Linked DNA regions of Homo sapiens. The protein of the gene in region 3 interacts with the protein of the main gene of each other region in a biochemical or structural test. Each region holds a gene or a part of one and is shown on either strand. Other genes may lie near its edges.

Region 1 (8,255 bases), on a different chromosome or scaffold from region 3:
AACTGCATTTCCCTCTTCTCCATGGTTGGCCAATCCCTCTAGTCCTTCTTTGTCCCTTCCTTTGCCCCTCCCTGGTTTGTACTTCTCTTCTGTGCTCACCTAGCACTTTATGCTTGCCTCTGTTCATTTCACTCTTTACATCATACATACCTTAATAACAGGACCTATGTCTTTTGGCCTGGTACAGCACCATACACATAGTACTCAATACTGAATTTATGAAAAAGTATGTGACACACACACACACACACACACACACACACACACACACACACTTTAGAGACAAAGTTTCACTCTGTAGCCCAGACTGGAGTGCAGTAGTGCCATCATAGCTCATAGCTGACTGTAGCCTCGACTTCCCAGGCTCAAGTGATCCTCCAGCCTCAGCCTCCCAAGTAGCTGTGACCATATGCACATGCCATGACACCAGGCTAATTTTTTTTTTGAGACGGAGTCTCGCTCTGTTGCCCAGGATGGAGTGCAGTGGCGTAATCTTGGCTCACTGCAACCTCTGCCTCTCAGGTTCAAGCAATTCCCCTGCCTCAGCCTCCCGAGTAGCTGGGACTGCACGTGCACGCCACCACGTCCGGCTAATTTTTTTGTATTTTTAGTAGAGACAGGGTTTCACCACATTAGCCAGACTAGTCTCAAACTCCTGACCTCAGGCAATCTGCCCACCTCGGACTCCCAAAGTGCTGGGATCACAGGAATGAGCCACCGCGCCCAAATTTTTAATTTTTTATAGAGATAAGGTCTCCCTATGTTGTCCACGTTGGTCTCGAACTCCTGGGCTCAAGCAATCCTCCCGCCTCAGCCTCCTCAAGTGTTGGGATTTTAGGCGTCAGCCACCATGCCCAGCCAGATACATATTTAACAGAAGATTGTAAGTTAGCTTAAGAAATGAGTGCTCTGACAATCTGTCTACCAATTGGAAAAATTTAAGTAACTTTTTAATTTATATTCTGAATAAAATATAGCCACAAAGAAAGGCAGCTATATGTCGTCACATGTAAATATCCCTAATAAATATCTGATAAAAGAAGAAAGTAGGCCGAGCACGGTGGCTCACACTGGTAACCCCAGCACTTTGGGAGGCCAAGGTGGATGGATCACTTGAGGTCTGGAGTTTGAGACCAGCCCGACCAACATGGTGAAACCATGTCTCTACTAAAAATACAAAAATTAGCCAGGCGTGGTGGCGGGCACCTGTAATCCCAGCTACTCAGGAGGCTGAGGCAGGAGAATTGCTTGAACCTGGGAGGTGCAGGTTGCAGTGAGCCGAGATCACGCCACTGCATTCCAGCCTGGGCGACAAAGTGACTCACTCCGCGCTCAAAAAAAAAAAAAAAAGAAGAAAGTAAGTCACAAAACAAAATGTGTAAGGTGATCCTATTTAGAAAAACAAACAATATGTTATACTATCCCTAAAGCACTCTTGTTCTTTTGCTGTCCTAAAGTGAAGAGAATGGAATAGGGAAAAGGCTTGGGGGAAAGGGGACCTGTCCATGTTTATTGTCTAGACTTCTTGAATGACTGAATGGAATATTTAGTTAATATAAAAATATAATTTAGAATGATTTCACAAAACAAGCCATATACTTATTTTTCTCAGATGTGATGAGGCCTAATATTTGAAACTTATAGGTTATACTGTGACATTATGGAAGAGCAAATAAAAGAAAATGAATACCTCTTTAAAAGCAGCCATTTGCTTCTGGATTCGGTTTACAAATCGCCATTGTATTACAAGACTAAAAAGAAACAACATTTCATTTTCATGTGAACCAAGACAAAATTCTGAGGCACAATTATTCTAGTTAGAAACAAAAACTAAAGGCTAGCTGAGACCAAGGTAAAAGCTGAATATGAGTGCTTGCTACTGCATTGTGATAGAGAAAAAGAACACTGAGATTCTGGACAAGGGGACAGAGAAAGATGGTAAGAAGAGTCTTTCTGGAATAAAGTACAAAATTATATCCAATAAAATACATACTAATAAAATACTTACTAAATATATTCCTTTTTGTTCTTATTGGTGACAACTATTTCTGATCCACCATTTTTCAGCTCATGTTGATGTGTCTAAAATTAAACACAATAACTTGATATGTTATTTTAGCGAGAAAAATTTAAAAAGTATACATATTGTAGTTATACGAGAAACTTGGTGTTTTAAATTAAGTCCAGTCAAAAGTTAAAAACTAAGAAAACTTAAAATACTAGTTTTACTAAAATAAATATGGAACGAGTCAAATGTTAAAGAAAGTACAAATTCTTGCTCAGAGACAGCTTTTGTTACTGGGAAATGAATGTAAAAACAGAGCCTAGGAATGTATTAAGTGTACGTATTAACATCTAAACATTTGTCTCACAATTTATGTGCCATTTTAACTGATCAAAATTCACAAACCTGTCCAAAAAGTTCTTCATCTATGATAAACCTGAGGTCCAATTCTGTTGGGTCATTTTCAAGAATCCATCTTAGGGAATTGTAATATTCACTATCCTAGATGGGAAAAATTACATATTTAAAATTTGTATCTATAACACACCTGAAATTGCAAAAAACAGTATGTAGAGGGTCTGAATAATTGGGTAAAAGATGAGAGGTCAGATGGACATCCTTTACTTACACACATATATAAACAAAAATGTATGTGTGTATGTGTGTGTATTACAAAAAGAGATGGATGACAGGTAAGGGCAAGAGTAAAAATGCATCAATCAATTAATCAATTGGTGCCTACTTAAAAGTTTAGAATCTATGTTTATGTGGAAGCAGTGGAGGTACAGATTTTATCATCCAGTTAAAGGAATGAATACAGAAGTTTTCAGATAAAACCTAACTTCTCTGGATATCCAGGAGCACTTAGCACATTCCTCATATGCCTATGTGACTTCGTGTTAAATGTTTTATTTTTATTTTTTAATTTAATTTTTTTTTTTTTGAGACAGGGTCTCGCTCTGTCCCTTAGGTTGGAGTGCAGTGGGGCGACTGTGGCTCACTGCAGCCTCGACCTCCTTGACTCAAGTGATCCTCCTACCTCAGCCTCCCAAGTAGCTGGGACTACAGGCGCGCACCACCACGCCTGGCTAATTTTTGTATTTTTTGTAGAGACAGAGTATCACCATGTTGGCCAGGCTGGTCTCAAACTCCTGACCTCAAGTGATCCACCTGCCTCAGCTTCCCAAAGTGCTGGGATTACAGTTGCACACCCCTGTGTCCGGCACTAAGTGTGAAATGTTTAAGTAGCTATGAGGAGGCCATTGTTTATACCCAGCCCGAGTTAAAGAAAAATCTCTTAATAAATATAGAGGCTCAATGAACCAACTCAAGTAACTGTGCAATCTTATGATTTATAAAGAATCACACTGTTTGTGCTGTTAATATGTAATAAGAAAAGAATAAAAAATGAACTTGGTACTAAGGAAGATGCCCTGGAATTCATGTGAACACACATTGTGTGAGGCTATTCAGCAGCACAGGAAACAACACGGCTACAGTCCGGGGTTTAATCCTTGGGCTTCTGTTTTTTTCTAGGAACCTAACCATAACGCTTTGCCTTTCGACTGCCATTTAAAAAATATACACCATTTGGCCAGGTGCGGTGGCTCATGCCTGTAATCCCAGCACTTTGGGACGCTGAGGCAGGCGGATAACGAGGTCAAAAGACTGAGACCATCCTGGTGAACACGGTGAAACCCCGTCTCTACTAAATATACAAAAATTAGCTGAGTGTGGTGGTGCGCGCCTGTAGTCCCAGCTACACAGGAGGCTGAGGCAGAGAATTGCTTGAACTTGGAAAGCAGAGGTTGCAGTGAGCCAAGATCACGCCACTGCACTCCAGCTTGGCAACAGAGTGACACTCTGTCTCAAAAAAAAAAAAAAAAAAAAAAAAAAATATATATATATATATATATATATATATATATATATATATATAACATTCATCATAAAAGATCATAATGCAAATACTGATTCAAAAGACATATAACTTGGTATAACCTATTGAAGTATTTAGTGGGATGTTTAATGTTATCTATAACTTACTCTGAAATGCATGAAGAAACTAAGACAGACTGATGGATAGACAGATAGGTATGTGATAAAGTAAATCTAGAAAAAAAGCAATTGTGAGTAGTTGATATACAACTGTCCAATGTAAAATTCTTCCAACTTTATTATATGTTAGAAAATTTTCATAATAAAATGTTGAGGAAAAAGTTCATTTGTATTTTGAAACATGATAATATATTAATTTCCATGTCATTAAAAGCAAATTCTTCAAAATGTTCAAGCTGCTTGTTAAATTATACTTCGTCTATACTATAAGTGAAAAAGACATACCACAGATTCCATATCATGAAGGGTTATTGGTTTGTGAAGCATCATCTTGTAAAATGGGCGGATGAAAAAACCTTGCAAAAAACCAAATACATTTAGGATGATTACCAAGTGAAAGAAAACAGGTAATTATATTGTAAAAAGTTTATACTTAATACTAACCATCCAACAGTTTGCCATGATAAACTGCCATTCCAGCTACCCGACCAATAAACTTGAAGTAAGAGAGGTGATCTTCGTTACACAATCCAGAGTTTGGATTTATCTGTAGGGTATAATTGTCCCTGTAAAGACAACCCCATTTAAATACTTCATTTGAAAAACTTTAATATGACAAATAATTACAAATAATCTTCCTCCTTTAAGAGTTGTTTACCACTGTTAGAACCACATTCCTCCACTGGATTTAATGGTTTTAAAAATAGTAATTTCTGTCAAAAAGTGGAAATAACCCAAATGTCCTTTGGCAGATGAATGTATAAACAAAGTTTTGTTTGTTCGTTTGTTTTTGAGATGGAGTCTTGCTCTCGCCCAGGCTGGAGTGCAATGACACGGTCACAGCTCACTGCAACCTCCGCCTCCCAGGTTCAAGTGATTCTCCTGTCTCAGCCTCCCAAGTAGCTGGAATTACAGGCGCCCGCCACCATGCCTGGTTAATTTTTGTATTTTTAGTAGAGACAGGGTTTCACTATGTTGGTCAGGCTGGTCTTGAACTCCTGGCATTGTGATCCACCAGCCTTGGCCTCCCAAAGTGGTGGGATTACAGGCATGAGCCACCACGCCCAGCCTAAACAAAGCATTATATGCAAAAATAATGGAATATTATTCTGCCTTAAAAAGGAAGGACATTCTGATACATACTACAACATGGATGAACCCTGAAGACATCATGTTAAGTGAAATGAGCTGGTCACAAAAAGACAAATATTGAATGATTCCACTTATGTGAGGTACCCGAGGAGTCAAATTCATAGGGACAGAAAGCAGAATGGTGGCTGCCAGGGAATGGGGAGCGAGTGCTTACTGGGTATAGGGTTTCATTTTGGGAAGATGAAAAAGTTCTAGAGTTGGATAGTGGGATGGCAGCACAACAATGTGAATGTATGTAATGACTCTAAATTGTATATTTAAAATGGCTAAAATGGTAACTTTTTTTTTTAGAGGAGTCTTGCTCTGTTGCCCAGGCTGGAGTGCAGTGGCGTGATCTCGGCTCCGCCTTCCGGGTTCACGCCATTCTCCTGCCTCAGCCTCCTGAGTAGCTGGGACTACAGGCGCCCGCCACCACGCCTGGGTAAGTTTTTGTATTTTTAGTAGAGACGGGGTTTCACCGTGTTAGCTAGGATGGTCTCGATATCCTGACCTTGTGATCCGCCCGCCTCGGCCTCCCAAAGTGCTGGGATTACAGGCATGAGCCACTGCACCCGGCCGACTCTTACTTTTAAAACAGTGATTTTTCTTTTTCTGCCGATAATCATTGTAAAGGTACTTACGTAGCAGAATATTCAAACAACCCATAATAAGGGTTAAACATTTCCTTTGAGATCAGGAAGAACCATTCTCTGGCAACTCCTCCATAATCCAATCCCTTTTCACCATCAAACTCAATCCACAGTCGAGCCTTCAGGAAGTCTGCTCTCTTGACACCCATAATTCTCCGGTAAGAGTCTTCAAGAACAGTTGCTCGGCGAAGTTTCATTTCAAATTTGTTTGGAATGTCATTCTGAAAATCCAGAGGAGAGACGTACTGTTTAAATCAGTTCAACATAATAACAAACCCATCTCTCATAAAGTTATAACATTCCCTCTACACCCTGTGTCCAAGTCTCTTTTTCCTTACGTAATATACTCAGGGAAAACACAACTAGGTATATTGTCTTGGTTTCCTCTATGGTATGAGACAGTTTCTGCATTTTCTTTAATCACTTAGTAATATAGACTTCTTTACATCTGAAGAAGCTTTTGTTTTTGGAGACAGCTCTGTAGTCCAGGCTGGAGTGCAGTGGCGTGAACATGGCTTACTGCAGCCTCGACCTCATGGGCTCAAGTGATCCTCTTGCTTCCGATTCCTAAGTAACTGGACCACAGGCGCATGCCATCATGCCTGACTAATTTTTTAAGTTTTTGAGGTCTTGCCATCTTGCCCAGGCTGGTCTCAAACTCCTAAGCTCTAGCAATCCTCCCGCCTTGGCCTCCCAAAGTGCTGAGATTACAGGCATAAGCCATGGCACCCGGCCTAAAGAAGCAATTGATGGTGATGGTAATGCCCCCATGAAGGCATTTCGTTAACAGTCCTTTTCATATTAAGTTCCAATGAACACCGTTCTGTGACCTGTAGGATAGCCACTGCCTGCTAGCTGTTGTGCCTGTCTGTTCAGGCTTTTCCCTACCTCTACTTTCCTCCCTGGAGTCTATCTTGCTTCACTCATTAACAGATGGTGACATTTACAGACTGTGCCAGTGATATATTCTGGCTGTGTCCCTACCCAAATCTAATCTTGAATTGTAACTCCCACAATCTCCATGTGTCATGGGAAGAACCTGGTGGGAGGTGATTGAATTATGGGGGCGGATCTTTCCTGCACTGTTCTCATGATAGTGAATGGGTCTCACGACATCTAATGGTTTCTATGCACAAGCTCTCTCTTTGCCTGCTGCCATCCATGTAAGATGTGACTTGCTCCTCCTTGCCTTCTGCCATGATTGTGAGGCCTCCCTAGCCATGTAGAACTGTAGGTCCAATAAACCTCTTCCTTTTGTAAATTGCCTGGTCTCAGGTATGTCTTTATCAGCAGCATGAAAACGGACTAAAACAGCCAGGCATGGGTACCCTGGAATGGCAGGTTAACGTGTTTAACCTCATAACAACACTATGCGAAAGCTACTATTATTGTCTTCATTTTACACATAAAACTGAAGAAGACGACTTAAGAAAGTCTTAGCTCCTGAGTCTGTGCTCTTAATTAATGGAGCTACATTGCCTCACTAATCTTTTGTACGTTCTTTGCTTATGTGACAAATGTACACAACTATGCTTTAGGCAGAACTTATTGTAAATTTTACAAAAGATATATCTAAATATTTTATTCCTCAGTACTTCATGGGCAAATTTCCAGGGGAAACCAGTAAGAGAAAACATGCCATCAATATTCTGTCACCTCCAAAAAAGAAGGTTAGCTCTAAGGAAAAAAAATCAATTTCATTCTCAATTTATTTAGGGAAAATGGAAAGCCCTATAGAAACATAATAATGTAAGCAGTTGATATAAGCAATATAAGCATGATATGAGCAGTTTCCTATACTGCTTATGTCATTAAAAAAATGGTAAGCTTGCAGAACAGCAACTTTAGACTGGATACTAGGCAGCTGGTGCAGGTAAGCATTTATCAAAGGCCTACTCTGGGCCAGGTGGTATTGTAGTAGGGCCAACGATGGGGAATAAAGGGAATAAAAACATAGGGTAAGATGTCCTTGCTTCCTCAAGGAGTTTCTCATCTGGCGTATATGTGAAAAACAAGTGTAAATGATGCTAATTCTGAGACTTAAAATAGGAGGACAATTGCTGATGATAGAGATGGAAGCAATGTTCTGCAGGGCATAAAAGACTGAGCTATTGACTTCAAATGAGGCAATCAAGAAGGCTTTGAGAGGAAGTCTTTAGACAGAGAAAGGGAGGGAAGGACGGAGGAACAGCATACATGAGAGGTCTGATATATTTAATACCTAGAGGGCACAGAAGGAGAAGAAGGGAGAGGAAGGGAAAGAAGGCAGGGATTATAGGGGAAAAATGCAAAAAAGTAGTCTGGGGCCAGAGGGTGGACAGTGTGAATGCAGTTAAGAAGAGAGTTTCTGGGTTGGGGAGCCACACGGTCAGATTGCTGGGTTCTCAGAAGCTGACGGGACAGGGTGTAAA
Region 2 (8,710 bases), on a different chromosome or scaffold from region 3:
CAAGTCAGTTGAGAGAAGGCCCTCATCTTTTGTATCTGATCCTTTTATCTTTTATCTGGTCACCCTGGCCTGCCTTCAGCAACAATAGTATCAAGTCATTTTAGCCAGAAGCCCCTTCTCCTTGATATTTCTTTTGATTTTTCATCCACTGACCCCCCCTTCTGCCCCTCTTGTTCCTTGATTATAAATTCCCACATGTCCTAATTGGACTTGGAGTTGAGTCCAGTCTCTCTCCCCCACTGCAAGACCTGTTGCAGGGGTCCCTATACATATTGTCATGGCCTCTTTGAATGGCCTTCTTTAACAAGTGTCATAAATTATATATATTTGAGATGGATTTTCGCTCTGTCACTAGGCTGGAGTGCAGTGGCGCAATCTCAGCTCACTGCAAGCTCCGCCTCCGGGTTCAAGTGATTCTCCTGCCTCAGCCTCCCAAGTAGCTGGGACTACAGGCATGCGCCACCACGCCCAGCTAATTTTTGTATTTTAATAGAGACAGGGTTTCACCATGTTAGCCAGGATGGTCTCAATCTCTTGACCTCGTGATCTGCCCACCTTGGCCTCCCAAAGTGCTGGGATTACAGGCGTGAGCCACCGCTCCTAGCCCATAAATAATTTTTTAACATGCTGTTTGGAGACATAGTAATTTTATTCAGCATCTTAGTTGGATATGAAGAACATGGAAGAAAGAGAAATCAAGTTAGTGGTGAGGAAAAGTTGTTCACATCTGATTGGGAATCCAGAATTTCAATCACCCAAACAGATGATAGAAGCTAAAAGAAGTTACAAGGTCATTGCATAGGAGGATTACTCTGATTCCTAGGAAACATGGGCTAGGATGCCTTATTTCAGTGGAGGTCATGAATTCCTGTTGCCATAGTCACTGTGAGAAAGGGCTTGGCCTTCTCACCTGTGATTCAGGTAGAATCATTCTGGAAGCATGTAATCAGTCCTCAAATTTTGTGTTCTGGTTTTGAATCTCTGACATATTCTGGTCCAAATTTTTTAACCCAGGTTCATTTGTCTCAATAGTTGGGTAGGTGCAGCTGGGCGCGGTGGCTCACACCTGTAATCCCAGCACTTTGGGAGGCCAAGGCGGGCAGATGACGAGGTCAGGAGATCGAGACCATCCTGGCTAACATGGTGAAACCCCGCCTCTACTAAAAATACAAAAAATTAGCCGGGCATGGTGGTGGGTGCCTGTAGTACCAGCAACTTGGGAGGCTGAGGCAGGAGATTGGCGTGAACCCGGAAGGCGGAGCTTGCAGTGAGCTGAGATTGTGCCACTGCACTCCAGCCTGGGTGACAGAGCAAGACTCCGCCTCAAAAAAAAAAAAAAAAGTTGGGTAGGTGATACACTTACTCTAACAAGATAAAAAAATAAGGAGAGAGATGATAAATAAATAAATCCGTGGTATTAGTACTACTGAATTAAGTTCAGGATCATCTGTTTGTGTTTTATCCGTGTTTGTTTTTTAACCCCTTTTAATGTTAAAAAGAATTCGATATACAATATTAGTCATGTGACTTTAAGTTTAAGGGTGAATAAAAACTAAGGTGACCTTGGAAGTAAGAAGGTGGCTACTCATCACTGTAGGCTTACCATCTGAGAAACCTCCATGGGAGGCCAGAATAACTTACTTCTTTTGCTTTTTTAAACTTAATTCCAGAAGACATCACATATGCATGACAAAGATAAAAGCACAAGTCTGCACCATTTCTGTGTTCTCAATAAATCTTATTGCCTAAAATATTAAGGAACGTTGAACTAAACATGTGTATTTTCTTTTAGCACATTAAAGATGCCATTCCATTGTCTTCTGGATTTATTGTTTCTGAAGTCAGCTGACAATCTTAAAAGGCAATGCATCTTTTCCCCGGCACCTTTTTTTTGTTTAATTAAATTAAATTAATTTTTTTTTTTTTGAGATGGAGTCTCAATCTGTTGCCCAGGCTGGAGTGCAATGGTGCAATCTTTGCTCACTGCAACCTGCATCTCCCAGGTTCCAGCGATTCTCCTGCCTCGGCCTTCCAAGTAGCTGGGATGACAGGCGCCCTCCACCACAGCCAGCTAAGTTTTGTATTTTTAGTAGAGACGGGGTTTCATCGTATTCGTCAAACTCATCTCGAACTCCTGACCTCAGGTGATCCACCTGCCTCAGCCTCCCAAAGTGCTGGGATTACTAGCGTGAGCCACCGTACCTGGCCCTGGCACCTTTTAAGATTTTATCTTTTTCCTTGGTTTTCAATGGTTCTACTAGAATGCACTGGGTGTGGCTGATTTTGTATTTATCCTGCTTAGGAGTCATAGAACTTACAGAATTTGTAATTTGATGTCTTTCATCAGTTTTGCGAAACTTGGACTCTTGGTTATTATCTTTTCAAATATTGTTTCTGCCCCTTTCTCTCTTTTTCTAGAAACCTGAATACCTGGTAGAACTTTTCATCATGTCCCATGTGTCTCTAATGCTTGTTTCTGTATTTTCCATTCTTTCCTTCTATGCTTCAGTTTGGATATTTTCTATTGATGTGCCTGCAGTTCACTAATCGTGTCTTTAGTTTTGTCTAACATCCAGAGTTCACAGCCTCATTTATTACACTTTTCACCTCTAGAGTTTTCATTTGATTTATTTTTATAGATTTCAATACTCAGGTGAAAATTTTCATCTTTTTTTCTGTTTTCTTGAAAATGTTCATCAGAGTTATTTTAATCAGGCAACTCCAATATCTGACTCATCTGTGGGTCTGTTTCTATTGTCTTTTTCTTTTTTTATCTAGTAACTTTTTAATGAGATGCCAAATATAGCTTCTAAAAAGTTGTAGAGGCTTCAAATGTTATCATTCTCTCAGGAGGGTTTTTCCCTTTCCTCCACAAAACCAAAGACAGGAGTGGCCAATAACCTTAATCCAATCAGGGACTGCATGGAGTGAAGGCTGGGCTGAGGTTCTGGTAGGGTTCAAGCTACCGTTGCCCTCCAGTTTCCAACTGGGAACATGGTGTAGGCTCTGCAGTAACCCACTTCCACCACCACCCTAGCAGATCTCAGACTCGAATCTTTGTTTTGCAAGTCTATCAAAAACTTCTGCTTTCAGAGGCCTTCCATTTACATTTCAGTTTCTTGCCCCATACAAGCCTTGAATTCAGCAATTGTCCTTGGAATTTCCCCCTACATCGCTGTGTTGGTTTTGTGTCCCCAGCAGTGGCCCTCTGTGGTCTCAAAGTCTAAATTCTCAGCCTCATGCTTGTATCCAGAACTGGCAAAAGCCCTCACACACCAATACAAGCCACTGCAGACATTAGCTCACCCCTTGAAGGTTCCTCATTCTCTGGAATATCAAGTCCCCCCATTCTTGCCTCAGCAGCTTTCACTGCCTTCAAACAGATGTTTTCTGACTTCGCTTTCTGGCTTTTCTAGTTGTTGTTAGTGGGAGCCTTGGTCTACTGCAAGCTGCTCCATCACACCTGAGCGTGGACATTCAATTTCCTGATGGTCTACTACGTAAATGTAAAAGTGAAACTATCTTTGTTACTCATCTCAGAGAAAGCCCTCAGAAAAAAATGTCAGAACAGTTTCTGTTGTCCTTCTACCTTGCTGCAATTGCTACTGAGCAATCAACGGGCTTTTTCCTGATGTGCTAGAAGCCAACACCATGGCACGGGCTTTTGAGAAAAGAAAGGCTTTATTGTGAGTTGACTGTCAAGGAGACATGAGGAAACCCTCAGCTCTGTCTCCTTGAGCTTGGGGCTGGGTTGGGTTTTATAAGCATAGGGTAATGACGCATGATCGGATTAGATTTTGCGATGAGGTGATGCTGGGATGCTCATCTGACTGGACCCTGCCATGGGGTGACACCAGGGCTTGATCTGATTGCATTCTGGATCTCACCATGCAGTGCCCATTTCTTAATTCAGTCCCTGCTTTGATCTGAGCACTCAGGTTCCGCCCCTGGTTGCATGCTTGGTTCACCTGGGCATCCTCAGGTTACGTGCGAAACCTTCCATCTGGGAGTCCATGCAACTGAAAAACAACTCACAACTTGGGTATATAAAAGGCGAATCAGATTGGTCTGGTGCGGTTATACAGTTATTAATATCCCTTTGTCAGAAGTCAAAATTACCACAAATTTAGATTAAAGATCTATTGGTTTTTATTGATTCATGAATCAGGATGGCATCTTCTCTGAAAATTTAGAAACGGTGCTCCAACGAGCTGGGCAGAGGAGGTGGGCTTTATAGGTAGAAAAGGGCTAAAGAAAGCAGCAACAGGGAACGAAAAACGGATTGGTCACTGCAAGGTTACAGGAGTCCCCTCTCGTCCACACACAGGTGGTGTGTCCCAAGACCCACAGTGGATGCCTGAAACCTCGGATAGTACTGCACCCCATTTTACATACACACACATATATATATACTATATATATACACACACTTCATTTTTCCTATACATACGTACATACCTACGATAAAGTTTAATTTATTAGGCACAGTAAGAGATTAACAGCAATAACTGATAATAAAATAGAAGCGTCACTGTTGAGCACAGCCTTGGGAATAGGACCTTGGAAGTAGGCAGAGCTCCCTAGGCCTTGTGGTCCCTAGTGGCCGTGGACAGCATGGGGGAGGAAATTCCCGGGAAGCAGCCTAATTTCACCCCAGGGAAGCCCCTGGTGGGCTTGTGGAGGGCGGGGTGAAAAGCCGCTGGTTTAGGGAAGGGGTCCAGCCTAGGCTGAGGAATGAGATGCGGGTTGGGACGGTCCCGACCCTTCCCCCAGCCTCTTTCAAGGATTCTGGAGAAACAAAGCCAGGATCCATTTCCTCTTGATGGCTGGCAAACTGAGCCCGGGCGGGAAGTCCTGGAAGACTGAGCCTGGGGTGGCGTTGGACACCAACTCCCAGGTCCTCGCCCCACACGGCCACATCCTCGCCCAGCCCCGCCTCCGCTTAGCTCCGCCCCGTCGCGGCTCCGCCCCGCGGTAACCACGCCCACACAACCGTATCCCCGCCCACAGCTGGCTTCGCCTTGGCCCCGCCCACAACCCTCTTTCCAAGCGGCGGCGGCGGCGGCGGCGCGAAGGCGACAGCGGCGGCGGGGGCGGGGCTGGCCTCACCCGGAATGAAAACAAACGGCGGCCGCTGCCGCATCCGGGCACTCTGCTGGTCGCGGCGGGAGTGGCGTGGCGCAGGTGAGGACACGGCGGCCGAGTGTCCTCGACCCCAGCCTCAGCAGCACTGCTTGGCGCCCCGGTTCCCGGTCCGACTGGGCACCTCTCCTGGCCAGGGGTGGAGCGGCCGCGGGGCGGGGGTGAGCAGCCATGCGTGGAGCTGGGCCGGGGCCGGGGCCGGGGCCGGGAGCGGTGGGCCGGGCTTCGGGACGCGCTGGCCGTTCGGGGCCCTTTGGTTTGCCCTGAGTTAGGCAGAGGTGTGGGGTATTTAAAAGAAAATATTGAGTGTATCGGTTTGGGGAGAGAAAGGAATAAATATGTCTATAAAAAATTAGCCAAATGCTATACTTGAATCGTAACACTCCGAGTATACCATTTGGGATTTATTTGCAATCAAAGCCAGATTTTCTTTGCTATTTAATGACAAGACACTTGATTTTCTCGAACCTTGACGACCTGATTCTATCATTCTCACCTCCTTCCCTTTTATTTTTAATCAAGAATCTTTCATTTTCCTAAGAAAAAATGAATGTGTCTTGACTAGATATAGTTGTGTTTCAACTATATATAATGTATACTTGAAAAGGTGTGGCTAAATGTAGCAATGATCGATTCATTACAAAAGTGAAAGTGAAATTTTTAAAGGATCGTTATAACGTTTCACTTTCTGCTTGGACCACGGAGTGATATTAATGAGTTTCGTCTTTTCTTAGTTACAATGTGAAACATTGTATGGCATGCATGAAACTTTTTCAGTTCTCATTTCAGTTAAAATTAAAAACTGACTTATTAAACTTGACTTAAAATATGTCGCCACTTACTCTGTTGTCTATAACTGAAGTTCCTTAAGTTTCAAGACAGTGGTTTAATTTTTTTTTAACATTAAATCTTATTCGGTGTAACCCTGGAGCTCTTGTTTGCTCCCTGGAGTGTCTGACACGCACTGGGTTTGTAACACTCCTTCGTCCTTCTGTCAAGTGGTGGCTTGGATGGCATCTTTTTAAAAATTTTTTATTTGTTTATTTTTTTAGTAGAGACGGGGTTTCACCATGTTGACCAGGCTGGTCTTGAACTCCTGACCTCAGGTGATCCACTGGCCTCGGCCTCCCAAGTGCTGGGATTACAGGTGTGAGCCACCGCGCCCGGCCTTGGATGGCATCTCTGAGTACCGCATCAGCCTTTCAAATTGCTTGGCTCCAGTAACCAGCCTGTGAAATTACTGTCCCCCAGTGGGGAGACAGTAGGGTTGCTGTGATATTTTATTCAGAATTTCTGAAGATTCATGAGTAGTATGTAAAGTAGTTTTTAAAGTTATTTGTGTTTGAAAAGCTAACGCTCTAAGTACTAATATGCTTTGCTGTGATAAGCCGTTTGTCAGTGCTTGAAAAATGGAGGATTCTCCCATGGGCCACCCAGGTTGCACACAGCAGCCTCATTGGCTGTGTTATTCCTTCCTCTCTTTTCTCCTCCCTGTCCTGATTAGCCTAATTCTTGTCCCCGCACTGACATAAAATAGATTTGAACTTTCTTTTAAAAAATATTTGTTTATGAAATACACAAGCTACCAAAGTTTTCAAAGATTTCAAAGTTGTGTGAATTGGGTTTGGGGGGATGTGGAATACTGGCCCTCAATAGAAGAAAGAAATTTATCTTGGTAATATTAACTCATATTTTTTCCACTCTCTAGAACTTGTCTTCATCATTCAGGGGCTAATAACATTTTTCTTTACTTATTGCTTGTCTGATTTGGGAAACCTTAAAGCGCTGTGCTACACCTGCCAGCTGCCTTACATCTCAGCCGCCTCACTCACCTTTGAATTGCTGTGCTAGTATGGGATGAGTAGACAGCTCCATCGCGGTACATACTTCTCTGGGAGAGAGAAGTTACATACCTGGAACAGGCAAGCAGCAAGGGACTCCATGACGGAAGTTCAGAGTCCAGTGTTGTGGGTGGAAGTTGTGCTCGTTAAGATGCTGCCTAATTTTGTGTCTTTGCCTGAGTCATGGTACAAACTCAGGGCCCTAATTTTCTCAGCTGTAAAATGATCCGATCAGTGTTAGATTTGAATAGTAGGGCCAGGCGCGGTGGCTCAGGCCTGTAATCCCAGCACTTTGGGAGGCCGAGGCGGGCGGATCACAAGGTCAGGAGATTGAGACCATCCTGGCCAACACGGTGAAACCCCATCTCTACTAAAAATACAAAAAATCAGCCGGGCGTGGTGGCGGGCGCCTGTAGTCCCAGCTACTGGGGAGGCTGAGGCAGGAGAATGGCGTGAACCCGGGAGGCGGAGCTTGCAGTGAGCCGAGATTGTACCACTGCACTCTAGCCTGGGCGACAGAGTGAGACTCCCTCTCAAAAAAAAAAAAAAAAAAAAAAAAAAAAAAAAAGTAGATGTGCTGTTAGGCTGTTAATCAGAAAATATGCAAAATTTTCCTAGTATTGTAATCTTTTTAATTTAAAAAATTCTGACATAGAAAATATTTATATATTTATTATTATTTTGAGACGGAGTCTCACTCTGTTGCCCAGGCTGGAGTGCAGTGGTGCCATCTCGGCTCACTACAACCTCTGCCTCCTGGATTCAAGCGATTCTCCTGCCTCAGTCTCCCGAGTAGCTGGGATTACAGGTACCTGCCACCACGCCCGGCTAATTGTTCATATATTTTTTTTTTTTTAGTAGAGATAGGGCTTCACCATGTTGACCAGGCTGGTCTCGAACTCCTGACCTCAGCTCCTGAACTCAGCCTCCCAAAGTGCTGGGGTTACAGGCCTGAGCCACCACACCCATCCGAAAATATTTATTATCGATAGTTTACAGTTCAAGCAAGCTTTTCTTTATATTTAACTACCAGGATGGTTGGCCTTTTGTTTTATGTTAAACTAGCCAAAGTATGAGAGAATTTACAAGCTCACGCCTGTAATCCCAGCGTTTTGAGACCAAGGTGGGTGGATCACTTGAGGTCAGGAATTCGAGACCAGCCTGGCCAACATGGCGAAACCCCGTCTCTACTAAAAATATGAAAATTAGCCGGGCGTGGTGGCGCATGCCTGTAATCCCAGTGAGTAGGGAGGCTGATGCAGGGGAATTGCTTGAACCCAGGGGGCGGAGCTTGCAGTGAGCCGAGATCGCACCACTGCACTCCAGCCTGGGCGACAGAGCGAGACTCCGTCTCAAAAAAGAAAAAAAGAAGTTCACGACTCGAGGGATTTATCTTTCTCTTATTTTCTCTTTTCTCTTAGATAAGAGAATAGCAGATTAAGAAATAGAAACATGTAATAATCCTTGCTACATATTAGCAACTTTGAAATACATATTTTATATATGTAATATATATAATTGAACATATATTTCTATATATATTTTTAGAGAAGTCTGGAGCTCATTTAAACCATAGTAATTTATATTTAATGACAGAGGAAGGGAGCTTTGCTTACCCAACAAAGCACCTTAACATGTAGGTAAGTTATTAACATTTTAAAATGCGATGTGGAGTTTTATTAATGTATTGTTTTGCTTTCAGGGATGGCACAAAAGAAATATCTTCA
Region 3 (4,501 bases):
TGGGCGTGGTAGTTCATGCCTGTAATCCCATCACTTTGGGAGGCCAGGGGAGGAGGATTGCTGAAGGCTAGCAGTTCAAGACCAGCCTGGGCACATAGGGAGACCCTGTTTCTCTAAAAAAAAAAAAAAAAAGGCCGGGCGCGGTGGCTCACACCTGTAATCCCAGCACTTTGGGAGGCTAACACGGGCAGATCACCTGACGTCACGAGTTCGAGACCAATCTGGCCAACGTGGTGAAACCCCATCTCTACTGAAAATATAAAAATTAGCCAGTACTAGGAAGGCTGAGGCAGGATAATCGCTGGAACCCGGGAGGTGGAGGTTGCAGTGAACTGAGATCACGCCACTGCACTCCAGACTGGGCGACAGAGCGAGACTCCATCTCAAAAAAAAAAAAAGAGAGAAAGAGAATTAACCTCCCTTCTTTATGCACAGAGAGTCATAGCAAAAAGGGAGGAGGTGGGGGTGTTAAATCTTGTGTGAACGTGATGGTAGATGGTGTACTTCAGGTACAAAGAAACTGTAAGAAAAAGGGAACCGAGTGACAGAGGAAAGAGCTGAGTGATTCCTCTGGTTAACTCTGAGAACTTCCTCTCCCTTTACAAGCTGGCTCTGAAGCACCGACAAGGCAAGAATCACAAGATGCGCATCATTGCCTTTGTGGGAAGCCCAGTGGAGGACAATGAGAAGGATGTGAGTCCAAGTGGCAGCTGGGGAATGTGGGGAGCCCATGTTTGGGACTGAGGTCTTCCAGCCCTCAGGAGAACCTGGCAGAGGCATCAGGCTCATCACTTTGGGGAAAGGTGAATGTGGAGAATTCAGTGATTCTGTTGGAGGACCTTGGGGAGGTCAATAGATTTCTGTATGCTTTTATGCGGCGGGTCCTTTCCCCCCCTCGAGTATGGAACAGATTTCTTGATTTTTCTCCCCTTCTTCCCAGCTGGTGAAACTGGCTAAACGCCTCAAGAAGGAGAAAGTAAATGTTGACATTATCAATTTTGGGGAAGAGGTGAGTAGGGACTGATTGGAGGGCATTGACTTAATTTGGTCATAAACAGAATGGTCCTTAACCCTGAGGAGTGCGGGTACTGTGGCAGAGTAGTGCAGAAATGGGAAAGAACAGGGAGCAAGGCCTGAAGAAGGGCATCATGTGTTCTTTCCTCCCCAGGAGGTGAACACAGAAAAGCTGACAGCCTTTGTAAACACGTTGAATGGCAAAGATGGAACCGGTTCTCATCTGGTGACAGTGCCTCCTGGGCCCAGTTTGGCTGATGCTCTCATCAGTTCTCCGATTTTGGCTGGTGAAGGTGGTGCCATGCTGGGTCTTGGTGCCAGTGACTTTGAATTTGGAGTAGATCCCAGTGCTGATCCTGAGCTGGCCTTGGTGAGCAAATGTTGACCCCAGGTAGAGTCCAAAGGTCCCTCTTTGTTCTCTTCTGGCACACACATCACAGAGCTTCTATCAGGCTGGATAGTCCTAGACACTACCAATCACTCATTTTCCAAGACCTCCTTTTGCCGCCTCTTCCCTATAATGCTGTCTGATCTCTAGGGGCACCAGTGTCAGATGCTTTCTTGTTCACTTCTGATGAAAACCGAGGCTTCTCCCAAGTCCTTACTTTTTAATCCCGTACCACTGCTTATCCCTCCAGCTTCTTCTCTGTGTGATAAACCAGAAGCTGCCCCTTTATGTTCCTTTCCCACACCCCAACTGACTTTCCCAGCTCCCTGTAGGAGTGAGGGCAGGGGAGCCCTGATTATGCCCTGCCCTTCACCAGGCCCTTCGTGTATCTATGGAAGAGCAGCGGCAGCGGCAGGAGGAGGAGGCCCGGCGGGCAGCTGCAGCTTCTGCTGCTGAGGCCGGGATTGCTACGACTGGGACTGAAGGTGAAAGAGGTGGAATCCGAAGTCCTGGGACTGCGGGATGCTAAACATTGAAAGCTGGGTGTAGGCACTGCAGGGAGAGTGTGGAGGTCTGACAGGGTAGGAATATGTGGGAGGGCTGGGCTAGGAATGGCCTTGGAGGCTGGCCTGTGTGGATATGGCACCAATTCTACCCTGCTCCTCTTTTCCTTTTCCCAGACTCAGACGATGCCCTGCTGAAGATGACCATCAGCCAGCAAGAGTTTGGCCGCACTGGGCTTCCTGACCTAAGCAGTATGACTGAGGAAGAGCAGATTGCTTATGCCATGCAGATGTCCCTGCAGGGAGCAGGTGAGCCAGAGCCTGGGTGGTGCCTAGGCAGAGGTTGGGGTGAGGAAGTGTAACTGAACAGACTGACCTCTCTTCCTCAGAGTTTGGCCAGGCGGAATCAGCAGACATTGATGCCAGCTCAGCTATGGACACATCTGAGCCAGCCAAGGTGAGACCCAACCCTGCCCCCATCAGGTTTAAAGTCCTTGAATTTAGATCCTCATCCCTCTGGGGCTGGGAGTATTTCTACCATAGCTAAGTCCTTTGAGGAGCAGAGGGAAACACATGGATTTGCATTTCTTACATGTAAACCTTGCTAAGGTAGCAATGCTAATGGTCAGAGTTGGAGAAATGTCCTCTTGTTCTGTAATTTTCCTTTCTTGCTGGTGGGAGCAGCCTGGGCAGTTCTCTAGGATGTCTTCCCAGGAGGGAAAAAAGCGGGTCTGGGAAAAAGAAAAAGGAGAACTGGGTGTCTTGAGAGCAGGAAACCTCAATGTGATGGCATCTGTTTTTCTCCTCAGAGCTCAATTAACAGAGTTCTCAGCAGGCCCCTCTATTTGGTTAGTAATAACTGCATTCATGCTGTATAAAGGATTTTGCTGACTTGTCCTTTCCTTACGTCGACCAGAGGTGCCCAGATCCCCACACAGTCAGAAGGCAGGGGGCCTCTGGCAGCGGCATGCTCCTGTCCTTAACACCTGCTTACTTCCTGCCGCTCCATACCCTCCCTTGAGCTCACACTGCCTGTTTGCAGGAGGAGGATGATTACGACGTGATGCAGGACCCCGAGTTCCTTCAGAGTGTCCTAGAGAACCTCCCAGGTGTGGATCCCAACAATGAAGCCATTCGAAATGCTATGGGCTCCCTGGCCTCCCAGGCCACCAAGGACGGCAAGAAGGACAAGAAGGAGGAAGACAAGAAGTGAGACTGGAGGGAAAGGGTAGCTGAGTCTGCTTAGGGGACTGCATGGGAAGCACGGAATATAGGGTTAGATGTGTGTTATCTGTAACCATTACAGCCTAAATAAAGCTTGGCAACTTTTTTTCCTTTTTTGCTTCAAATATTGATGGTTTTGAGTGTGAGAGAGGGGAGGAGTCCCTGGCCTGAAGGAGAACCTTCCTTGTTGAGTTCTCTATGTCTCTGTTTCCACCTGTCTGGGCCTCCTAACGTGCTGGGATTACAGGCCCAGGAGCCAGGTTTCCATTTCTAATGAACGAAGACCTTATTTAAACCACCTTCTTGCCAATAACTTTTACTCTGCACTCACACAGCTGAACCCCAAGCATGGAATGATACTCAACCTTTTCAGTTTTTTCATGTGGACTTCTGAGGTTCAGCAAGTTTAGGTTATTTGGCCAAGGATATTTAGCTAATGAAGAGGCAGAACCAGGATCAAAATCCAAACTTGTCTCAGACCTGTCTCGCCAGGAGTTGAATCACCACCAAACAGTAGTTTCCCATTGGTCAGCTGCCTTCAGTGACTCTGCTCAGCCCTGCAAGTCAGTTCCTTGTAGCAACTACTATACCTTCCTCTACTCCCCGATCACTCTCAACAGAAGCCTGACATCTTTACAGAGAGTCAAGGCCGTGAGGCAGGAAGTTCTGGCTCCCTCCCTCCTGCCAGCACCTCCCTGCATCAGTTATGCTGTCTCCTGAGTCTCTGCTGTCCTAAACACCCTGCTGGCGTTTTCCTCTCAGTGTACATGCATAAAATCCACTCTACAAGTAACCTTACCTTGAGACTTTATATTATACGGTTTAAATATTATTTTACAAGGAACATCTATTCCCTTTATAATTTTTTTTAAAGTTTTTTTTTTTTTCAGCCAGGTGCGGTGGCTCACACCTGTAATCCCAGCACTTTGGGAGGCCGAGGTGGGCAGATCACAAGGTCAGGAGTTTGAGACCAGCCTGACCAATATGGTGAAACCCCGTCTCTACTAAAAATAGAAAAAAAATTAGCCGGGTGTGGTGGCACACGCCTGTAATTCCAGCTACTCAGGAGGCTGAGGCAGGAGAATTGCTTGAACCCAGGAGGCGGAGGTTGCAGTGAGCTGAGATCATGCCACTGCATTCCAGCCTGGGCGACAGAGGGAGACTCTCAAAAAATAAAAAATTAAAAAATATATATATATATTTTTATTTATTTTAAACAAAGTCTGTGCTCTGTCACCCAGGCTGGGGTGCAGTGGTGTGATCATAGCTCACTGTAGCCTCAACCTCCTAGCCTAAAGGATCCTCCTGCCTCAGCCTCCTGCATAGCTGGGACTAAGGCACACACTACCACGCCCAGCTAATTTTTTTTTTT
Region 4 (8,255 bases), on a different chromosome or scaffold from region 3:
AACAGGAGTTGATTAGACCTGTGTATCCTTTACCTAATATTGATCCCTGGTTTGTATCCACTGACCACTCTATGAGGTATTAAATCATCAATCTAATGCTTTATGGCCATTTAAACTTATAAACCTATATACCATCTGGCTATGTTTAGTAAACCAAACTACTTCAAAAAGTGCCTGTAGTCCATTAATGTAATGGGTTTGTTTGGAGTGTTAGGTGAAATTACTTCCAAAGACTTATTTATAGGTACATGGTGAAATGATCAGGAACAATTTGATGGCACCCATTAAAAACACAGGACTGCATTTTGGAAATTTCTGATGGTGTAGAAAGTTTTAATATAAATTGTACCATTACTGTATTTAACATGAAGAACTAATTATTATATCTTTAATTGGCTTTTGTTCATGTTCCTTTAATAAGAATTGGGTAATGCATGTCTCCATCTGCTTATGCTTACATACGAACATGTGATGCCAGCCAAACAAAATCCATTTAATGCTTTCTTTCTCAAGTCTGCTGAAAAGTGTGACTGATATCCATACAATCTTTATAATTAAAATGATATGATTCAGGGGAAAGGCCCAAAATGAAATGCCATGTTCTCTTTCTTGTTAAGTTTGTGCCTACGGGAGTGAGAGTATGAAGGAATCCTTCTGAACTATTTAAGTCTGTAGAAAACCTCTGATATGTACTTTGTAAACAGAAATAACTTTGAATGTTTTTATCTCAGTTGTAAATGTAGAACAGCAGGCAAAAGAAGTTTTTTTAGTGAGATCATCCTATTTTATAGGATCTTTTCTTCTGAGACCTCAGTACAGATTTGGGTGGTGGAGAACTTTAATTGGGAAGCCCTTCTGGTTTACACTCCCCAAGATCTGTTCTCCACTGTTTTCCTCTGCACCTCCTACAAAATATTCTCTGAAATGCTAACCAAGTTATCTTTTGGTCTGGAATTTTTTTTCATTTTTGCCCAACTGTCATTTAGGTTTTATAGCAGCAGCTACTCTCAAATATAGTTTTTTTAAATCTGAAATTAAACCCATTCTTGAACTTAAACATACATCTCTGTCTTTCTCTTGGGATATTTCCATGCCATTCTGTATTTCCTTCTTCTCTCCTTTCTGCATGCCCAAAATTCTATAACCCAGCACATTCTGACTTAGTGCCTCTCCCCTAGTACATTTAAAGGACATTTCTTTTACCGAACAGCTTTGGAACTACAGCAGTAATAGAAACAGAATGAGAAATGGACCTAATATAGAGATTTGGGGGGGTCTGAATCATAGAGTTTGAGATGCCATCCATAGAACATCCCCTAGTGCTGAAATCCATATAGATAGATGTGAATTGTTTTCTGGAATCCTTTTTATTTTTAATGTCTTGGGGGGTTTGCTGGTTGTTAGCTTTAACTTCCTTATCTAAAGGAAGATGGAAAATACTGTTCATTTCTGTAACCTTATGGAAAAATTATTGACACTCATTTTACCCAAGCCTCTGTTTGAAAAAGAAACTGGACCACACTAGGGACAATGATGTGCCTTCATAGCAGAACAAATGCTGTTCTGTTTTAAAGGACCTTTTGTAAAAAATCATTCGCCACCTTCTGTGTTCTTTTTCTTTGCCTCCTCCCCCTACTGAAAGCTCGGGGATTGGATCATATTGCTGAGAACATTCTGTCATACCTGGATGCCAAATCACTATGTGCTGCTGAACTTGTGTGCAAGGAATGGTACCGAGTGACCTCTGATGGCATGCTGTGGAAGAAGCTTATCGAGAGAATGGTCAGGACAGATTCTCTGTGGAGAGGCCTGGCAGAACGAAGAGGATGGTGAGCCTTTAACTTTTCTTACTCTTATACGGCTTCAGGACCTGGCCATTCACAGTCACTGAAAGATTTTTGGGGAGCCAATGAGACCACTTCTCATTTAATATGGTGATTTTGTTGATTTCTAGCTTAAAATGTAACAGAGAACAAATGTTCATATACTCAGCAGTTTTTCTTCTTACCTGTCACTCACAAAATGACATGATATTGTATTAATACTGCTTTGCAAAAAATAATGGAAAGCTGATCAGCCCTCCTGTTTAAAACATTCTGTTATCTGGGCAGAAGTTGGTATCCTGTGGCTGGGCACAGTGCGTTCACGCCTGCAATCCCAGCACTTTCGGAGGCCAAGGTGGGCAGATCACTCGAGGCCAGGAGTTTGAGACCAGCCTGGCCAACGTGGCGAAACCCCAACTCTACTAAAAATACAAAATTTAGCCGAGTATGGTGGCGTGCACCTGTAATCCCAGCTACTGTAGAGGCTGAGGCAGGAGAATCGCATGAACCCTAGGTTTCTTTCAGAAAATTTCTTGCCTTTATCTTATGCCTCTGGTGTTTTGTCACCTTTGTAATCAAAAATTATTTTTAAGCCCAAGTGGAATAAGAACTCTAGCCATCAGAAAAAGTGAAAATGAAATTAAGTATAAATCATTGTTTCTTCTTAAGACTTCTGTTTTTCAAGATTTTCTGACTTAATTCCGAATTCCCCAAAGCATCATATAGTTAGCAGTCTAAGAGACTTCACTAATTTTTTTGTTGTTCTCTTAACAGTACTATTTCATTAGAACTTCTGAAAGATATCTTTCTTTAAATACTTTTCTCTCAGAGTATGTCTCTAGAATGTCACTATAGGAAAGCTACGTAGTAATAGTTCACAAATAAAGGTGACATATTAAATATTCTCATTGACAGAAAAAATTATAATAGGCATGTGTGTGCTTAGTGATGTCCTTCCAAATTAATTTTATCAGTTGTTTATCTTGGATCATAAAGAGGAAAACAGTTAAAAGTAGAGAACACTTTTAAAAGATAAATATTCATGGGCCAGCTTTCCTTTGAATTTTCATGAAAAAGTAGTTGGCTCTCTTTCTTTTTTTCTATCTTTGAAATTTATTAACACATAATAAATACAATGACCTATAAATATTATACCAAATGCCTCAGATTTTTATCATTCTGGCTATTAGGAAGACTGTTTAAATTTTTCTCTCAAATTGAATTAAAGGAACAAAAAAACTAGGCAATTTTTAGGCTGTGTAACAAAGAATATTGTTGGCCGGGTGGGGTGGCTCACGCCTGTAATCCCAACAGTTTTGGAGGCCAAGGCAAGAGGATCGTTTGAGCCCAGGAGTTTGATACCAGGCTGGGCAACATATTGAGACCTCATCTCTACAAAAAAATCAAAAAATTAGCTGGGCCTGGTGGCGCATGCCTGTAATCCCAGCCACTCAGGAGGCTAAGGTGGGAGGATGGCTTGAGTCTGGGAAGTTGAGGCTGCAGTGAGCTGTGGTCATGCCACTGCACTCCAGCCTGGGCAACAGAGCAAGACCCTGTCTCTTTCTCTGTCTCTCTCTCTCTCTCTCTCTCTCTCTCTCACATACACACACACACACACACACACACAAAAGAATATTATTACTACTTCTCAAATATGTTTTTTAATTCTTATTTCGCTACATAGAAAAATAGAAATCTTTCATAACCTACTTCATACTTTGGAAATAAACTCTTTAATAGTACAACAAAGCAAATAAAAATGGAGTTATATGGTATTCGGGGTCCATCATTTTGCTAAGAGTGCTGGGACCAGCCTTGGGGATACAGCAGGCAGTTGCTTACATGAGAAAATTTTAGGGCAGCTGAGAAGATTTCTGTATCCCTCAGAAAAAAAGAATCTCGTCTCCAAATAACTCCTGAAATTTCAGTTAAGGAGATTCATTCCTTTAGCTATAAAGGTTCTGTTACCTGTTAAAATACATTGTGTTCCCATTTGGACTGTAAATGACAGTAAACCTTCATCATAAATTGGGAGTTTACTGAGTCCTTTTTTGAAGGCAGAAAGATCAAGAAGTAAGTGGGCAGTTCTTGGCAGATGGATGTGAAAATGCCAAAGGTAAAAGGCTCCACAGTTTTGCTTGGGATTGGCACTAAATGGCAAGATCTTTTATGTTAGTTACAAAGAAAAAACAATCATTGAGAAGATGGCTTTTGAGCCTTTCTAAAGGGTAGGTGAAGTAATCCAGGATCCAGCACTAATTACCACTTTTTTCCCCTATCTCTTTATCCACAGAAACCCATTCCCGCTCTTTTGAGTATCCTTCAGAGTTCTGACTATATCCCCTTGTCTTTGGGCATGTTTATCCTCTTAATCCCATGATAAACCCATGAAATTCCAAATACTTATACATCCCGTGTCAACTTCCTCCATTATTCCCTCGACTTTCTTGTTGCTGCTTCTGTTTTTACATGTTGACTTTATTCCTGTGTCAGTTTTCTTCCCTTTTTTAAAAAAAAATTTACTCCATCAGTTTCTCATTTTCTTCTTTCAAGTTGTCTTACCAAGCCTAATACGTCAATAAAGTCTTTCTGTGTTATACTTTTCCCCATATGCTAGCTTTGAAAGGTTCTTCCATTTCTACTAACCAAAAATAGTAAGTAAATACAGTTTTCTAATAAAGCTTTTATCTCTAAGTTTTAACTTGGTATTTGATGTTGTATTTTATATCTAGATGGATTTGACAGTCTTCCCCTGGGACATGAACTCTGTAGTTTTCTCTCTTGAATAATACTGAATATGCTGTCTGCTCAGTAATGGTAACTCTTAAAAGTATAATAAAAGACCACTTGGGAAAAGTCAATTTTCTTAATCAGCAGATCACATTTTATGATAACATTCTGAATTTAATATTTAACGTTTATCATGTACTCACATTCTTGTAGGTACTAGGCATTTCACATAGAAGTAGTCCCTGTTTTCAAAGATCTTCCATCATAAAAGGTTTTGACTTAAAACATAAAGACAGAAGCCAGTTTTCAGTACCTAGCCACCTCTTTCTGTAACACTTTGATTTGAAGAAATTCAGATACTTTACCAAGACATGGTAAATGCAGTGAGGTGGAAAACAAGATCAGAAGCTTATGTGAGTTCTCTTTCCTTAGAATGTAGATAGTATCATTGCATAGGAAGAAAGTCTTGGAGTGCTAGAGATTAAAAGAAGACAGGAATCTCAGGAATGGTGGGCATTGAGAAACAATAAAGTAGTTAAGAATGTGGGTGGGCTCAGGAGTCAGACTTAAAATCTTCACATTCAAAATCTATTATTTGCCTGCAAAGTGTTTGTAGAATAATATTGTACAGAGAAATGTACCATTAATCTGGAATTCTTTCATAACGCATCTTGTTTCCCCTTTTGTTTATGCTGGTGTATCATGTTTCATTAATCCCCCTTTTTATAAGTATTATTTTCACTTCTCTATTTCAGATTTTCTTTTCTGTATTAACACAGAAGTTAGAGCCATCTACCTTCCTGATAGGAAATTTTCTCAACTAATTTTCAGGGTATATAACAGGGAGAGGGCAGGGGAGAAACACTCCTGGAGACACCAAACAATTAATTATATTGTAATGGAGCTATAGAGGGAGGAGTGGATGACTGGCCCAGAGAAAACATGATTTCTCTGGTGCCAGGATTACACTCAGAGGCATTTCTGCCTCTCTCCACTTTGCAAGGCACGGTGCCAGTGAGAACAGCAGTTAGTACACCCATAGTGGGGTTTACTAGCTTCCACACCGTGTTTGGTGGGTTCTTAACTTCCGGATGAGGAATTAAATTTTTTACCCAGCAGGAAGTGATTGCCATTTACTGATTTTTTTTTTGTAGCAAAGATCTAGCTTGGGATACGAGTATTCCAGAGATGTGCTGTCATAAGGAAGGAGATACTAACAAATGTTGCTCACTGGAATCAGGGAAGGCAGTTAAGTACATGTGTATGTACACAGCCAGGAACACACCTGTGAAAGTCAGTTTCATGCCTTAGACTTGATAGCAGTGCTCTTAGGCATTTCTTTTTTTTCTTCTTCCCTAGCTGCTGCTGGACACACCTGTGATCCTTTTGTTTTCTGATGAAATGAACTGAATTGCTCCTTTCAAAGCATAGTTGCACTGATTAGCAGCAGCCTGGGTGACTGAGCAGCCACCACACCTTACCCTGTACAAATAAAGACCTAGCAAAAGTGATCTCCATGCCAGAGGCATTGCTGCTGTCTACAATGCTGGGGACCACTGACACAGTAAAAGGGAAAAAAAAAAAAACCTATAGGGCATGTGCTAGTTCAAAGGTAATAGTTACCATTACTAACAAAATTTCCAAAAGATGAGGCCAGTGAATCTAAGCAGTAGTCTTAATAGAGCAATAGATGAATTCTGATTGTACATATTCCATTTGTTTACTGATATTATAATATTCCTAAAGGCTTGGTACTCCGATGTTCTACACTGGAAATAATCATGTTTTACCCAAAAGCAAATCAGTGTTGGTCAGATTCTTTAGAGCCCAGAAGGTTACTCTTTGACATGGGACTCCTGAAATCAGGCTTACCTTTGCTCCTCCGCAGACAGCTATGGAGAGTATATGGAATGGTAACCGTGAAAACACTTTCAAAATATATGAAGTTCCTTATAAATATATAATGTCGGCCGGGTGTGATGGCTCACGCCTGTAATCCCAGCACTTTGGGAGGCCAAGCAGGCGGGTCATTTGAGGCCAGGAGTTCAAGACCAGCCTGACCAACATGGTGAAACCCCATCTCTACTAAAATACAAAAATTAGCCAGCATGGTGGCAGATGACTGTAATCACAGCTACTCAGGAGGCTGAGGCAGGAGAATCACTTGAACCCAGGAAGCGGAGGTTGCAGTGAGCCAACATCACACTGCTGCACTCCAGCCTGGGCAACAGAGCGAGACTCTGTCTCAAAATATATATGTATTTAAATATATAATGTCATGATTTTCACTGGGAAATATTTGTTATTTTTTAGGGGACAGTATTTATTCAAAAACAAACCTCCTGACGGGAATGCTCCTCCCAACTCTTTTTATAGAGCACTTTATCCTAAAATTATACAAGACATTGAGGTAAGAATCTATGTATTTTGGGGTATTGCCCAAGGGCACAGAATTATCAGCATTCTTCAGTCACAGTATGGTTACAGCAAGCCCATTAAGGTTTATTGACATGAGTTGGGAATCAATCTCTTAGCTGGCCATGGTGGCTCACACCTGTAATCCCAGCATTTTTGGAGGCTGAGGTCAGGAGTTTGAGACCAGCCTGGCTAACATGGTGAGACCCCTGTCTCTACTAAAAATACAAAAATTAGCCAGGCATGGTGGCACACACCTGTAATTCCAGCTACTCAGGAGGCTGAGATAGGAGAATCACTTGAACCTGGGAGGCACATGTTGCAGTGAGCCAAGATCGCACCACTGCACTCCCTCCTGAACGACAGAGCGAGACTCCATCAAAAAAAAAGAAAAGGAAAAGAAAATCAATCTCTTTACAGGCGAGTAGGGTAGGTAAAATAAATTGCTAGGCAAAATTTTAAAGCTTTAAAAAATGGTTTACTAATAAGTAGATGAGAGAGTTAAAGAGATTGATCCCTTCATACATAGCAGTGTGACTGGTAAACTTGTACTCATAAGCTCATATTTAAATATCTTCTGAATTGAACCTCCTTAGAAGTTCATCAGTAGCAATCAGTAGCAATGGCCATCACATATGTAAGAGCACTGAGTGTATAACCTCACGTAGTTCGTAGCTTTTCTTCTCTTGATGAGTAGTCTCTTTCCACCAGATTTATTATTTAATTGAACAAATTATAGGCAGGGAAGTTCTAGGAAACAACCTTTAATTACCTTGCAAAAGGAAGAATATTTTATAAATATAGATAGTAGCCTTTTAAAGACATTTTTTAGTTTTCCCTAAGTTGTGTATATCCCATAGAGTAAAGCATTGAGCCATTGATTGTCATTAAAGCCTAAAAAGAGTTTGATTCTAGGTGTTTCCTAACACTGCCTCTTTCCCATTCCTTCTTCTCAGACAATAGAATCTAATTGGAGATGTGGAAGACATAGTTTACAGAGAATTCACTGCCGAAGTGAAACAAGCAAAGGAGTTTACTGTTTACAGTATGATGATCAGAAAATAGTAAGCGGCCTTCGAGACAACACAATCAAGGTGAGGTCTATTCAGTTGTAGAAAGGTAGCAGAGGGAGCAAGAGTGACCACATTCATAGCGCAGTCTAAAGCATAAACTCTAAGCATTATTTCTAGAAAGTAAGTGAAGATTTTAGATTGTTTCCAGTCCCAAAGCCAAAATCATTTCCTTAAAGGACAGACATCAGCTTCCCCACTATACAAACGGGTAGTC

The links.
Region 1: of the proteins of PSMD4 (region 3) and NEDD4, one has a biochemical effect on the other in vitro, tested with the Homo sapiens proteins (4 studies listed by BioGRID).
Region 2: the proteins of PSMD4 (region 3) and NUB1 form a complex in vitro, tested with the Homo sapiens proteins (2 studies listed by BioGRID).
Region 4: of the proteins of PSMD4 (region 3) and BTRC, one has a biochemical effect on the other in vitro, tested with the Homo sapiens proteins (2 studies listed by BioGRID).

Annotation. Positions count from the first base shown.
Region 1 is NC_000015.10:55,836,099-55,844,353, forward strand, and holds part of NEDD4 (E3 ubiquitin-protein ligase NEDD4), read right to left. Parts: intron 6,066-8,255; coding exon 5,836-6,065; intron 4,630-5,835; coding exon 4,508-4,629; intron 4,420-4,507; coding exon 4,349-4,419; intron 2,507-4,348; coding exon 2,411-2,506; intron 2,083-2,410; coding exon 2,009-2,082; intron 1,752-2,008; coding exon 1,691-1,751; intron 1-1,690. UniProt on the Homo sapiens protein: E3 ubiquitin-protein ligase which accepts ubiquitin from an E2 ubiquitin-conjugating enzyme in the form of a thioester and then directly transfers the ubiquitin to targeted substrates. Specifically ubiquitinates 'Lys-63' in target proteins.
Region 2 is NC_000007.14:151,336,663-151,345,372, forward strand, and holds the start of NUB1 (NEDD8 ultimate buster 1), read left to right. Parts: upstream 1-5,149; 5' UTR 5,150-5,184; exon of another isoform or gene 5,185-5,303; intron 5,304-8,685; 5' UTR 8,686-8,687; coding exon 8,688-8,710. UniProt on the Homo sapiens protein: Specific down-regulator of the NEDD8 conjugation system. Recruits NEDD8, UBD, and their conjugates to the proteasome for degradation. Isoform 1 promotes the degradation of NEDD8 more efficiently than isoform 2.
Region 3 is NC_000001.11:151,264,226-151,268,726, forward strand, and holds the end of PSMD4 (26S proteasome non-ATPase regulatory subunit 4), read left to right. Parts: intron 1-606; coding exon 607-693; intron 694-940; coding exon 941-1,009; intron 1,010-1,168; coding exon 1,169-1,384; intron 1,385-1,778; coding exon 1,779-1,887; coding exon of another isoform or gene 1,888-1,896; intron 1,897-2,082; coding exon 2,083-2,214; intron 2,215-2,294; coding exon 2,295-2,362; intron 2,363-2,947; coding exon 2,948-3,118; 3' UTR 3,119-3,254; downstream 3,255-4,501. UniProt on the Homo sapiens protein: Component of the 26S proteasome, a multiprotein complex involved in the ATP-dependent degradation of ubiquitinated proteins.
Region 4 is NC_000010.11:101,524,371-101,532,625, forward strand, and holds part of BTRC (F-box/WD repeat-containing protein 1A), read left to right. Parts: intron 1-1,642; coding exon 1,643-1,829; intron 1,830-6,866; coding exon 6,867-6,963; intron 6,964-7,924; coding exon 7,925-8,062; intron 8,063-8,255. UniProt on the Homo sapiens protein: Substrate recognition component of a SCF (SKP1-CUL1-F-box protein) E3 ubiquitin-protein ligase complex which mediates the ubiquitination and subsequent proteasomal degradation of target proteins. Recognizes and binds to phosphorylated target proteins.